4 linked regions of the Homo sapiens genome follow. The protein of the gene in region 1 interacts with the protein of each later gene in a pairwise test. Each region holds a gene or a part of one and is shown in the gene's direction. Other genes may lie near its edges.

Evidence for each region. The genes of interacting proteins can lie anywhere in the genome.
Region 2: the proteins of NEK6 (region 1) and SMUG1 interact in binary tests that used the Homo sapiens proteins (3 or more experiments, as listed by UniProt).
Region 3: the proteins of NEK6 (region 1) and ZNF24 interact in binary tests that used the Homo sapiens proteins (3 or more experiments, as listed by UniProt).
Region 4: the proteins of NEK6 (region 1) and CBY2 interact in binary tests that used the Homo sapiens proteins (3 or more experiments, as listed by UniProt).

What each region holds. Positions count from the first base shown.
Region 1 is NC_000009.12:124,327,449-124,330,948, forward strand, and holds part of NEK6 (serine/threonine-protein kinase Nek6), read left to right. Parts: intron 1-3,500. UniProt on the Homo sapiens protein: Protein kinase which plays an important role in mitotic cell cycle progression. Required for chromosome segregation at metaphase-anaphase transition, robust mitotic spindle formation and cytokinesis.
Region 2 is NC_000012.12:54,179,866-54,182,925, reverse strand, and holds the end of SMUG1 (single-strand selective monofunctional uracil DNA glycosylase), read left to right. Parts: intron 1-302; coding exon 303-830; 3' UTR 831-1,278; coding exon of another isoform or gene 1,279-1,407; 3' UTR 1,408-2,560; downstream 2,561-3,060.
Region 3 is NC_000018.10:35,331,727-35,334,420, reverse strand, and holds the end of ZNF24 (zinc finger protein 24), read left to right. Parts: 3' UTR 1-2,194; downstream 2,195-2,694. UniProt on the Homo sapiens protein: Transcription factor required for myelination of differentiated oligodendrocytes. Required for the conversion of oligodendrocytes from the premyelinating to the myelinating state.
Region 4 is NC_000013.11:45,705,320-45,708,819, forward strand, and holds part of CBY2 (protein chibby homolog 2), read left to right. Parts: intron 1-3,500.

The sequences.
Region 1 (3,500 bases):
AGGGGGACCTGTCTGTGCCCCAGCAGCCCCCAGCGGTCCTGGTGACCATGCAGGGAGACGCAAACATTCTCCCCACGTGTGTTTGGTCAGTTAGTGCAGGAAGATGCCTTTTTTAAGCCCCAGGGTTTTCTCATCTGTTCAGAATAGTGACCCAGAAGGGAATCAGCTGTGGCCAGAGGAGCCCAGCTGGGGCTTCCCACACCCCCTGATCACCTCCCAGCCCTTGCGGGAGAAGCTGACTGAGCCGGTTGCTTGGAGCAGGGGGCGTGTCTGTGGCACAGGGCGGTCATCTTCCCACTGCTGTGAGTGTCCCGTTCACGGGCAGCACCCTTGGTCCATCCCTCCTAGGGGGTGGACATTTGCACTGTTCCTAGTTTCTGGCTTTTAAACTGGCGGTTTTGAGGCTGTGGGGACCAGGTGCCTGCCAGGGAGGAGGTGACATTGTAGCTGGACCATAAAGGGAGACCAGATGCTGTTGGGACAGGGAAGGGGAGGGAGCAGCGTTCCAGGAAACAGTGGGTGAGCCTCGGTGTGCGGCTGAGCTTGGCTTTGCCACAGACCAGGGTCCTTGCAGGAGTGGCATGAAAAGCGGGCAGGGCCTTGAACTCTGAGCTCAGTGGGCTGGACACCACCCTATGGGTCGGGGGGTGCTGAAGGGCTGGACTCCGGAAGAGACTTGGTCAGATGTGTTTTGGGGACAGGTGAAGCAATGGCAAGCTTCAGTATCCACACACTGGGTATGTAACCAAATGTGAAACTTGGAATGCTGTACGATGGGGGATTTTTCATTTAGTGAGAACAAAGGAACCAAGAAAGCCCCCGCTTCCCCACCAGTGGAACACAGGAGCAGGGTCTCCTGTGCGTTACTACAAGGCTGTCTGGGTTTCACCACGCCCATCTGTGGGAACATTTCCCAGAGGCCCATGGAGTGGGCGAGGGCCCCTGCTTTCTCAGGGCTATTTCCTGGCTCTTTGAGGTGTGTTTGCAGTGGAAGGTGCCCCCAGGCCCACCCCCTGTGTGCTGTGCCCACCAGCATCCGCTTCCCCAGGAGGGGGCTGGGCCCCAGGAGCTGCCCGCCGCCTCCTTGAACACCGCCCCATTCCAGCTCATTTCCACCCCACTCCATGGCTCAAGCCAGGACGTCTCCTATCCCCAGACCCCCGAGTGCCTGCGGCAAGCGGGGTGTGAGAGACAGCAGCATTGTCTGGGCGGAGGCACTTTCTGGAAGTCACAGTGTCTTGTGGAAAGTGTCACTGTTCATACAGGTTCCAGAGAGACTCTCAGCGCGTCACACACACTTAGGAGAAATGTACGAGCCTAGAGACCAGCGACTCCCAGCAGCTGATGGAGCCAGCGGGGCTGGCGGGGAGGGGGTTGTTTTGAAACTCTTGTCCCCACCTGGCCAGGCCTCAGGAGCTCTTCCTTTAGCTCCAAAGGGAAGATGTGTAGGGACCCACCCCCCAGGGAGTATGGGACGTTCCACTCATGCCCTTGACAGCCCCAAGCATCCAGCCATCCTTCCCTTTAGCAGAGGAAGAATCAGAAATCCAGGCGCTCGAGAGATTTTTCCGAGGTCACATGGCAGCAGGCCTCTCCTTCAGAACCCACGCTGCTTCCAGGAAACGAGGGCCGGGGGCCTCGGCAGATACCGTTGGAGTCCCCCTTTGGGGACCCGGGCCACTGACTCTCCGTTGCTGGAAGGAAGCCTCGTCTTTCCTTGTCCCCTCAAACATTTACTTCCCTTGTGAAAAACCAAGTGTTTCGGTCAGTTTGGGACTGTTTACCTGTGTGGTTGAAGGGCTTCGAAAAGACCAGGAAATTCAAGGGAAGCTGTCAAAGAGAAGAGTTAGAACCGCTGCGTCCTGTCCCCCGTCAGTCAGCACCGAGCCTTTCTCTGTCCCACTGCAGAAAAAAGACTGTGGCGCTCCGTCAGAGAGGGTTAGGATCGCATCATTAGGAATGGGCAGAGATGCGTCTCATCCGACAGTATGATTTTATTGACTTGGACTGGTGCACTTATTATATTAATGAGAAGGAATTGGAACTTGGGAGAAGGCCGCCCTCATAAGCCGGGCTCTTCCCAAGCCCTCCGAGCGCCGACCAGGCCACATGATGGGTGGAAGGAGCCCTCCTGGGGCCTGTCCCCACTCCGGGCTCTGTGCCCGGCATCCAGGAGAGATGCCCAATGAGCTGAGGCCTGCACGGAGCTGAGCAAGTCCCTGCCAGCAGGACAAGCTCCCAGAACCAAGGGCCTGCACCCACCAGGTTCTAGAATGGTGACAGTGCCAAGCTAAAGCCCAGGACCTGTATCTCCAAGACCCAGGGGAAAGACCCCTTCCACCAAGAGGTTCTGCAAACAGCTAAGTCTTGCACACACGTTTGGTTGGGCAAGAGATTGAACTAATTACCATTGCATCGTGACTCAGGAGGGGCACAGGGGCCAGGGACACTTCACGCCCTGTGCGTGGGGATGAATTATGCATCTGCCGCATCTCATGTGCACCTACTATGTGGGGATGCTGTGGTGGCAGCCACGTTGCCCCAGCAACCACCTCATCTCCTAAGGCTGCTGACCCAAGAGCTGGGCTTATGCAAATCTGGTCTCCTCCCACTTCCCCCCTCCCTGGGCCCCCTCCCCGCCTCTGTATTTGCTAACACGAGGCTGGCATGAAAGGGCATTAGTCAGTGCCATGGTCGGGCTGACAGGTGCGGTACCCAGCGGTGGCAGAGTGGCTGCCTCGGTGTCAGAAATAGGAGCCGTAATTAGAGCGCGGAACAGAATGAGCGTCAGACGAATTACCAGGCAGCAGATCATATTTGTCAGGAAGGATTGCATACATAAAAATTAAGTGACAGTACACGCCGGCGTAATGCAGGAAAAATGAAAGATTTGCCTATACACAGCTCACAAGCTACAAGCAAGTGTCTCGCTCCGAGCAACGGCAGCAGCTGCAAGACAAATCACGGGGCTGGGAGAGCGGGCGGGCAGGCCTGGCTCCTCGGCTGTAGTGACAGGACAGTCTCGGTGACAGGCAGCCACGGGTGACAGGGCAGGAAGGGCGGCTGGTCACACCCAGGCCCATGCAGGGCCCGTGCTGCCTCTTGGGGGCTGGGAGAGCAAGTCTAGTTGGGGGTGACCCCATCAGGTACTCGAGGTCACGGCCCTGCTGGGTCTCCCAGGGCTTAGCCTGGCGCTGAGGCGCAAACCCCTTCCTTCTTCTTCCTTGAGCAAACTGCCTGGCCCTGGGCTGTGTGCTGGGGATATGCGATTATGCAGCTTTCGAGGGGACAGACACAGTCCATGCCAGGTGGCATGGTGAGGGGACAGGTGGGACTGCCTCTTGGGGCCCACTGTGGGCAGGCAGGGCAGGCGTGGGGCTCTGTGATTCTATACAGAGCCCCAGGGAGCCCAGGGTGGCTCCACCCCTCCCAGAGCCGCCCTCACTTCGTTACTCTGTAGCCACTGAACTCACTGAAAAGATGAGTTAAAGACGGAGAAA
Region 2 (3,060 bases), on another chromosome or scaffold:
CTAACCATCAAACCCTGTGTAGGGCTAGATATCTCAATGTAGTCCCTGTACTTAGTCCCAAAGGCTAGTTGGGCTAGAGGGAAACAAATTCTTCTGGACCACGGTTCACAATGAAGAACTGGAAAAAGACAGACAGGCTCAAACCATAGGGCCAAGAATCCTTGTCTCAGGCCTTTGGGTGAAGGTAGGGGTAGGGGGTGCAGGCTGGATCCTCATGTAAGGTATAAAGAAGTCAGTTGGTCCAGAGCCCGGGCCTCAGGTCTCCAGTTTGAAGCCTTTCATGTCTCTCTCCTTCCTCACAGGTGCCCTTTGGGGAAGTAAGCATGGTCCGGGACTGGTTGGGCATTGTGGGGCCTGTGCTGACCCCTCCCCAAGAGCATCCTAAACGACCAGTGCTGGGACTGGAGTGCCCACAGTCAGAAGTGAGTGGTGCCCGATTCTGGGGCTTTTTCCGGAACCTCTGTGGACAGCCTGAGGTCTTCTTCCATCACTGTTTTGTCCACAATCTATGCCCTCTGCTTTTCCTGGCTCCCAGCGGGCGCAACCTTACTCCTGCTGAGCTGCCTGCCAAGCAGCGAGAACAGCTTCTTGGGATCTGTGATGCAGCCCTCTGCCGGCAGGTGCAGCTGCTGGGGGTGCGGCTGGTGGTGGGAGTTGGGCGACTGGCAGAGCAGCGGGCACGACGGGCTCTGGCAGGCCTGATGCCAGAGGTCCAGGTGGAAGGGCTCCTGCATCCCTCTCCCCGTAACCCACAGGCCAACAAGGGCTGGGAGGCAGTGGCCAAGGAAAGATTGAATGAGCTGGGGCTGCTGCCACTGCTGTTGAAATGAGTGCCCTTGGGGCCTTGCATGGGACACATTCAAGACCTCGAAGTCATTCTTGGCCAAGCAGATGACAACACATCTCCTGGACTGGAGCAAAAGGTCCTTCTGTGCACCCTGGTCGCTGGGAAACGTATTCTTTGATCTGTTGAACTGTCTTCCAACCTGCCATGGCAGTTTTGACACTACTCCTGTTTGCCCTCCTGATTCCTGCTTTCTTTACCTTTTAACATTGCCCCTTTCAGGGGACCCCACTTTGTAGGGAATCTGCAGAAGGTGTGCTTTTGCACTTGCAGACTGCTCTACCTCAGTGTTTCCTTGGGAGACTTTATTCAGCTGAGAGTGCCCTAGACAGTAACTTCTAAGGTCACGTTTACTATTTCAGAGGAAATATCTTGCCAGGATACCTACCCATCCTTATAGAACAGTTACCTTTAGCTGACCCCTTTCCTCACAGGGACCAAGACAAAGCATGGGACATGAAATTAAGAGTGAACTTCTTATGGGAGGCTGCAGCTGGATCAGAGGAAAAATCCAGTGTGACAGAGTGCAAGTCAGAAGACCTGGCTTTTCATCCCAGCTTTGAAACTTGGAACTTTTTGATTGACAAATTAATAAACCTCTCTATGCCTCAGGCTCCTCATCTGTAAAACAGGGATGCCTACCTTATGGGGTTGGTGTGAGGATTAACTGAGATCACACTTGAAAGTGCCTTGCATGGGCTTGGCATGTGGGTGCTCATTACATAGTCTTCTTGTTTTCTTGCCTCTGGGTTGAGGATTCACAGCACTGCACTACAAGGGTAGCCCCTCTCCATTCTGGATACCTTGCTAGGAGAGAGTCTGGGCTTCCACCTGCGGCCAGGGTGAAGGGAAAATTCTTGCCATGTCAGAGATGGATCAATGACTATGAAAAAACTAGCCTGTGATTTTTTTTCACTCTAAGCATTAAGAGCTCCTAAAGCCTTTTGTCTTGTTACTTTTTTCCCCCTCTTGCATGCTAGAGGTGGAAGGTAGTCATTTAGATTTCCCCCCTCTTCCCTCTTCATTGTTGGCCAGGGGTTCTCTTGGGCAGCTGGGGGAAGGATGTAGTAGATCTCTCTTTTTTTTTTTTTTTTGAGATGGAGTCTCATGCTGTTGCCCAGGCTGGAGTGCAGTGGCATGGTCTCAGTTCACTGCAACATCTGCTTTCCCGGTTCAAGTGATTCTCCTGCCTCAGCCTCCTGTATAGCTGGAATTACAGGCATGTGCCACCACGCCTGGCTAATTTTTGTATTTTTATTAAAGACAGTGTTTCACCATGTTGGCCAGGCTGGTCTCAAACTCCTGACTTCAAGTAATCCACCTGTCTTGGCCTCCCAAAGTGCTGCTGCCTGGCTGGATGTAGCAGATCTCCAATTGCCTTACCAAACCTGCAGGGTCTCTGTTAAGTGTCTGTTAGGGGTCTTATATGATACTCTGGACACCGTGAGAAACAGGTGATGGGGCAGATGGGAACCTGGTATCCAACTCATTTTTTATGTCTGCTGAATGGTTGACTGGGTGCCCCTTTGGTAAGGGCTGGGAAAGTGAACCAAGTTGGGAGCAGAGCAGGTCTTGAGACCACCTTAATGAGGAACACATGGTCTACTTCCTATCTCCTGGGACACAGGTCATTTCCAGCTTCCAGAATTAGTAAGATTTTTCATATAAATCCTCCCCTACTTCATTGTATAATAAAGAATTTGGCCTTTGTCTTCAGTTCCTGAGAAGGAGACTCTAAATCCTTGGAATTTCCCAAGTAATAGGAGTATCTTTGTTTTTCGTGGCAGGTCCCTGAAACTACACCTGAATTTATGTTGAGATTTGACCTTAGGCTGCACCTAATTTTATATTGAATTTGATCTCAGACCACACCTGAGTTTGCTGTAAGATTTGACTGAGGATGGAGGCTGACCATGCCAGAATGACCAACCATATAGTTACAGGGCTGGGACTTTGAGCTGGATGATACCAGCTTGATCCCCAGGGAGGGGAGAGGGGCTAGAGATTGAGTTCAGCCACATGCCGATGATTTTAACCAATTATATCTATGGTAAAACTCTAGATATAAAAACTTCTGACACAGGTTTTGGTCAGCTTCCTGGCTGGTGAACACATGGATGTGCTGAGGGATGTGCATTGGTATCCTGTTTCTATGAGCAGAGGGCACACATCTGTGCCTGGGACACTCCTGGACCCTACCATATATTTGTCTTCAT
Region 3 (2,694 bases), on another chromosome or scaffold:
GGCATTGGCTTAGACACCGTACCTATCTCACTTAGATTTGTGGACTAGGAAAGCAAGATTCAGAGATCATGTGACTTGCATGTGGCCTAGAGATAAAATTCAAATCTGGTTCTGTAGACTCCAGGGACATATTCACCATGCCATGGGTGGTGGCTATTAAACCTTGATAAATTTGTGTTTATGGTTAACAAATGTGAAAGCTATTAAACATTGCTGGTTTGAATTTTTTACAGTGCAGAAATGTAAAATGAAAAAGGATATTTCCTTTCACAGTGTTACCGAGAAGTCATGATAATTTCGTTTGTTCTTCCAGATTTAGGCATATACTTATTTAATCAATAATGTGTTAACAGCTGACACCTGTGGTTGCTGTGACAGGCACTATTTGAAGTGCTTTATCATGGATTAACTCTTAATCCTCAGCTACCGTATAAAGTAGGACATAACCCCATTTCACATGCACTACACTGAGACTTGCCTCCTCTCCCCCCACATTGAAGATGTTCTTTTTTCATAACTATATACTATTCCATTGCATGAATATTCTGTAATTTATTTAATCCCCTATGGATTGATAATTAGGTTCATTATAGATAGAAGTGTAATTAACATTCCTGTACATGTATTTTGCTACTTGTGTGGGTATTTCTGTAGGATGAATAACTAGAAATTTATTGGATCAGGTTTCACATTTGCAGTTTTGAAAACTACTACCAAAAAGATTTCACCAATTTACAACTCCATCATTAGTAAGAATGCCTGTTTGCCTATAGTCTGCCAACCCTGAATCCTTAAAAATTTTTGCCAATCTGGTAGGCAAAATTTCTTTCTTTTCTTTGAATATTAATGAGGAGGAACATCTTTTCATGTTTCTTGGCCATTTGCATTTCCTATTATGAATTGCTTTTGCCCATTTTCCTTTTTTTAATTATGAAAGTCTAATGACTACCTTCTCATTGTATAAAAAACACAGTTCTTTGAATAGAGAGACCCTTTTCTCCAATGCTACCAATCACATTCCACTTACCACAGTTTAACATACATCCTCTAGTCACCTTTCCGTACGAATATACATACACATAAAAACACTTTTTACATAAATAGGATCTCATATTCTGTAGCTTTTTAAAATTTTGGTCTCAAAAAAAGATAACAGGTCTTTAAATTTCTTTAATGGTTGAATATGATTAAATACTATGAAAATGCCATTATTTATTCCCTTAATTTTTTTCCTCTCGCTATTACATTGCCAAAGTAAACATCCTATTCAGATGTCTTTGTGCATGTGTGTGAATATTTCTTTAGTCTGGAGTCCAGTAAGGTGGATTTTTGGATCAAAGGGTTTGTTCTCTGTCCACCTTCAGTCTTCCCAAAGGCCTTCATAACTGTATTTTCACCAAGTGTATGGAGAATGTTCATTTCCCCATATAACCATACCTACACTTGATAGTTTTTATCTGTTGGGCGAAAAAGAACCTTTTCTTATTTTGCATTTCCCTGATTATAAAAAAAAATGGTGAGATTGGGGTTATTTTCATGTTTATTGGCCATTTATAGTTTACTGTGGATTGTTTGTATCCCTTACCTGCTTTCTATTGGGTTATGTGTGGATATATTGTTTTTATTTGTTCAGCATCTCCTTCCCCATCTTCTGGTAACACAACCTTTATTTATTTGTGGGGAACCTATTCCCTGTGGCTTAGGTGAGCATGTGACCAGGCCTGGCCTCCTGAGTCCCACAGCTTCCTAGCCACAGTGATAAAAGAATGGGTATATAACTTAAGCCAGGCTAAGGAAAGCCCTTAACAGAACTTCTGCTGGAACTACTGGAAAGAAGGCTTTATGGAGATCCCAGGAACCAAGGACCATGTAAGCCTGAATTTGTGCCATGTGGAGAGAGTCTGTCTGAGGAGAAACTCGGATGCTAGCAGAAATGGAAAGAGAACTAAGTTCTGATGTCATTTTTCTGGAGGCCCTAGATCCAGCTGTGCCTAAAGCCTGCCCTACCTCCGGACTTTAAAGTTTTGTGAGCCAATAAAGTCCCTTTCTTGTTTAAGATAATTGAATTGAGTTTCTGTTCTGATTAATATAGGTTATTTGTATTTTCTTATTGATTTGTAGAAAACCTTTGTAATTTTAAATTCTAGACTTTATGCACTATATAAGTTAATAAAATTAGCATGGCCTTCCATGATTTGGCCTGTGTCAACTTTTGCCATTTGTTACTCCATTCTCCCTATAACACACACCCCACACACATACACTTTACATTCCAATAGTAACAACATTGATGTTGGGAATGTGGATGAACAGCTTTTTACACAATTGCCTCTTTGGCAGTTCTCTTCTTATTCTTCCTCTAGACTCATTAACCTGGGACTTTAAGGGTTACACTGCTGAGAGCTGTACCCATCTCCTACCATTGTTCTTGGGGGATTCCCCTCAAGCATTCCCTGTATACAACCCTTGGAGCCCTTCCAATGACCTCCATCCCAACTCCATGGTTCTCTGGCTCTTTGTTTCATTCTCAGGCCTGTGGACTCAAGACGTGAATGAGCACACACAGACCTGAGCAGCCTCACCCTGTGGGCTCTTTTCTATGGCCAGAAATGTAGCAGCGCTCTATGTCACCTGGCACCTCTATTAATCACATCTCCTAAGATGGAGTTTTCAAAGAGATGTCTTTCAAAATTG
Region 4 (3,500 bases), on another chromosome or scaffold:
AATTTCATTAAGGCATTGTTTACTCCTAGATCATTAATGAAAGAGCTACACCAGGTCAGACTGAGCTCCAATAGCACCCTCCGGTGCCTCCTTCATCCTTCCCAGTTGCCTTTTCTCCTTCCCCTTTGTTTGTGCTTGTTACTCAGAAGCAGTGAATTCCTGCTGACAGCACCCGCCAATTTGAATTCCCAGGAAGATTTCAGGAGAGTCTCTGTTAAACAGTATGCAAACATACTACATATGACATCTTCTTTATCCTCTTTGCTGTTAACGTTGTAATTCTGTCAACATCAATCACATTTACCTTGTGAATTATCCTTTTACCTGTTAGTATTTATTAAAACCACCATTGACTTTGCCATGGTACCAGGGAGCTGAATTAATTTAAAATAATGATAATGAGACTCAGCCTTGTCATCTCATATGAAAATCAGTATCATATTTGGCTTTTCCTTCCAGAATCCTGGGTCCTCTCAACTTCACATGCTTTAATAGTACCTCAGATGGCTGAATGTTCTCTGATAGTAACCCTCAGTAATGTTGGCAAAGTTGGTGTTTAAGAAACTTGGTCAGCAGGCTTGGACTCTATCAGCAGTGTTTGGACATCTCTTCTGGGCTGTGGTAGCCACATTTTTCCAGGGGTGGAGAGACATCAGTGTGTGTCAGCTAAGCCTGGCTAGTTGCTGTTCAATCCCATCCCCAAACTCTTTGGATGGGAAACCACACCCCCAGTAATTCTATCCCAGAAGGTCCCACCCAGAGAGACCTGTTGCTACAAGTCCTGTAGCACTAGTAAGAGATTTTGGTCCTTTCACTTCCCCTTTTCCTTTTGCCCTTTGGCCTTTGCATTTTGCCTCCCTTCTTTCAATTGTCCCCTTCCCCCATGTTCTTCACTTGCCACCAGGTTGGTGATCTGACAAAGACACAGTTGTTGGCAGATTTCAGGCATTTTCCTTCCAGGACCACTTATATTTACCAAGGAGGGCACCAGACCTAATGCTAAGGAAGAATTCCAATCCACAGATGGGACTTCAGGCTTCTGTGAGGGCGATGTTCGTGCCCATGGCCCTTCCTGGATCCCTGTCACTAATGCATCATTGGGTTACAGCTATGAGCACATTTCCCCTGAGGACAGAGTCTCTTGGCACCTTTCTAGCACCCGACAGGAAGGCATGATGAGCCCATGACCAACTTATTCCCCTTCTGCATCAGCTTCATATCTCATTCCTCCATGAAGAAGCCAACCTTTTTCTTTCCTACCTACTGGATCTCTATGTGAGGGCATTTCCTAGAGACCAGAAAAGAGACAATCTTTTATTTTCATGGTCAGTTGCACCATGCTACACAGGCTGTACCTCCCAGGCTTAGGAGAACATTACTGGGGTGTTCTTGGGGCTTTGTATTGGCATAGACCTCTTGTCAAGGGCTAAAGGATATCAGGGCAGGTTAGCTTGGCCCATGAAACCAATCCAGTGATACCACTGGTCGAGGAGTCCTACTGAGAAGGAACTGGCTTCTAACATAGGCCAAGGAGGTCTGGAATCCTGGAACTGCATATGTTCGCTGAGCTCAGATGCTTAGTTTTTGGGTAGCCCTTTTGTAAAGAAATATACTCCACGTTGCATAGCGCTTTAGGCTGGGTATGTTTAAACCTTACCAGTAGAACTGACCATCTGTTTAGTCTTTATGACAGCTTGGCTACCACTTTCTTGTCCTCTGGCAACCCCAGGAAGTAGGCAGAGCAGCCATGTTTAGGCTTATTTTAGAGGTGACATTCTGAGAGGCAAAATGACTTTCTCAAGAGCAGTCAAAGGAAGGACTTTTGAGCCCAAAGTTACTGGAAATTTAGGGCGTTTACCCTCGTTGGATTATATATTCAAGATGATGAAAGGGACCACTAGCGTGCTTGTGTGCAGGGGGTGGTGGGAGCTTCCTCTAAGGGAGTACATGGATGAACCTAGGGGTTTGTGGAATTCACGTGAGGAAAACTCCATGCTTATAGATTTTACATCATACCATAACAGCTTTGCCCTGGGACTATTTTAAAGTCTTAAAATATGAATGGAAATGAGGATATAGCTTATCAAATACACTAACTATATTAAGGCAAAAGAAATGGCCATTTTTGTAGGCCAAAAATGGTAAAATGTTAACAGTTTCTTATGGTTCAACCTAGTATTTCCTCCCAATCTTTCAGTGTATTTTGGTTGATTCAGTTATTGCCAAGGACTCATTAAGCCTCCACCACATGTGAAATTTGCTTTCTAATTCCCAAGACTTGGGATGTCACAAAAACAAGGGATAGGTCACTGTGCTTAGATAATTGCAACTTACTCATATGGGGAGAGGACAGGCCTGGTTGTAAGAGAACCATTGCAAAGTAATGATATTAGCACATGCAAAATAAAATGTCTGAGCATTGTGAAGTGCTAGAATAAACATGGAGTTTGGAGTCAAATATCCTCATTTTAAACCCTGGTTCCACTCCTTTATCAGCTATGTAATCTTATGCAGAATCATGCCAGTTCTTTGGGTAAGATATTACATATGAATACAGAAATCAATTAGCATATAACCTGACACATTATAGTCACTCAGTGTTATTTTTTTTCTTGTTCTATATAATCTTTCTCTAAAGAAATGCTAAGCAATGTCTCTTCTAAAAGCCCTTCTTGTATGTCTGCAGCTCTTTATAAACAAAGAAAATGTTCCGAGTCTCCTTTTATTTCTGAACAACAAACCCTCTGAGAGAAGTAGGGCAGATGTTGGTGAGGTCGTTATAGAGGGTTGTACAGGTTGTGCCCTGCAGTAACAGTGAATAGCGCCTTTTAGAGTTGGGCATTTCAAAAATATATGGGTTGGCCCTGATTCATTCATGTCAACATCCACATTTTCTAGGAACTAAGGCACAGAAATGAAGTGACTTTGTAAAGGTCATGCACTCATATAGTGCAGAGCCAGAATTCTCTGGAGATGTTATCATTTCTAGTCCCCTATTCCCCACACCTTGCTGCCTGCGTTAATGCTTCCTGCATTTTGACTTCTCTCATTTGCATCAAGAAGTAATTGGTGCTATTCACTGATTCTTCAAATCAACTGGAAATTCCCTGAGGGCAGGGTCTGTGAGCTTGGAACACAGTACGTGCCAAATTAATGTTAGTTGATTCACTGACACTAATGTAGGGGAAAAATTGGTGCAATAACATCCTGAGTGGGTACATGACTAGGGTGAAGAATTTTCACAAGGCCAAGAGCTTTCCTTTAAGGATTAAATCCAGCTAGCTCTGATCAGAATCAGAGAAATGCTACAGGAAAAAACAAGTTTGTTCTGGATCAATGTTTTCCTGAAGTTCAATCATGATCCTTGTCATGTCTAAAAATGCCTGTATATTTAATATAGGTATGTTTTCCCATTACTCATTAAAATAAGTATATGACTACTGAAAAATTTTTAAATGTTCTAAGAAATTAAGCCATGAGGAAACACTGCACTTGACCAC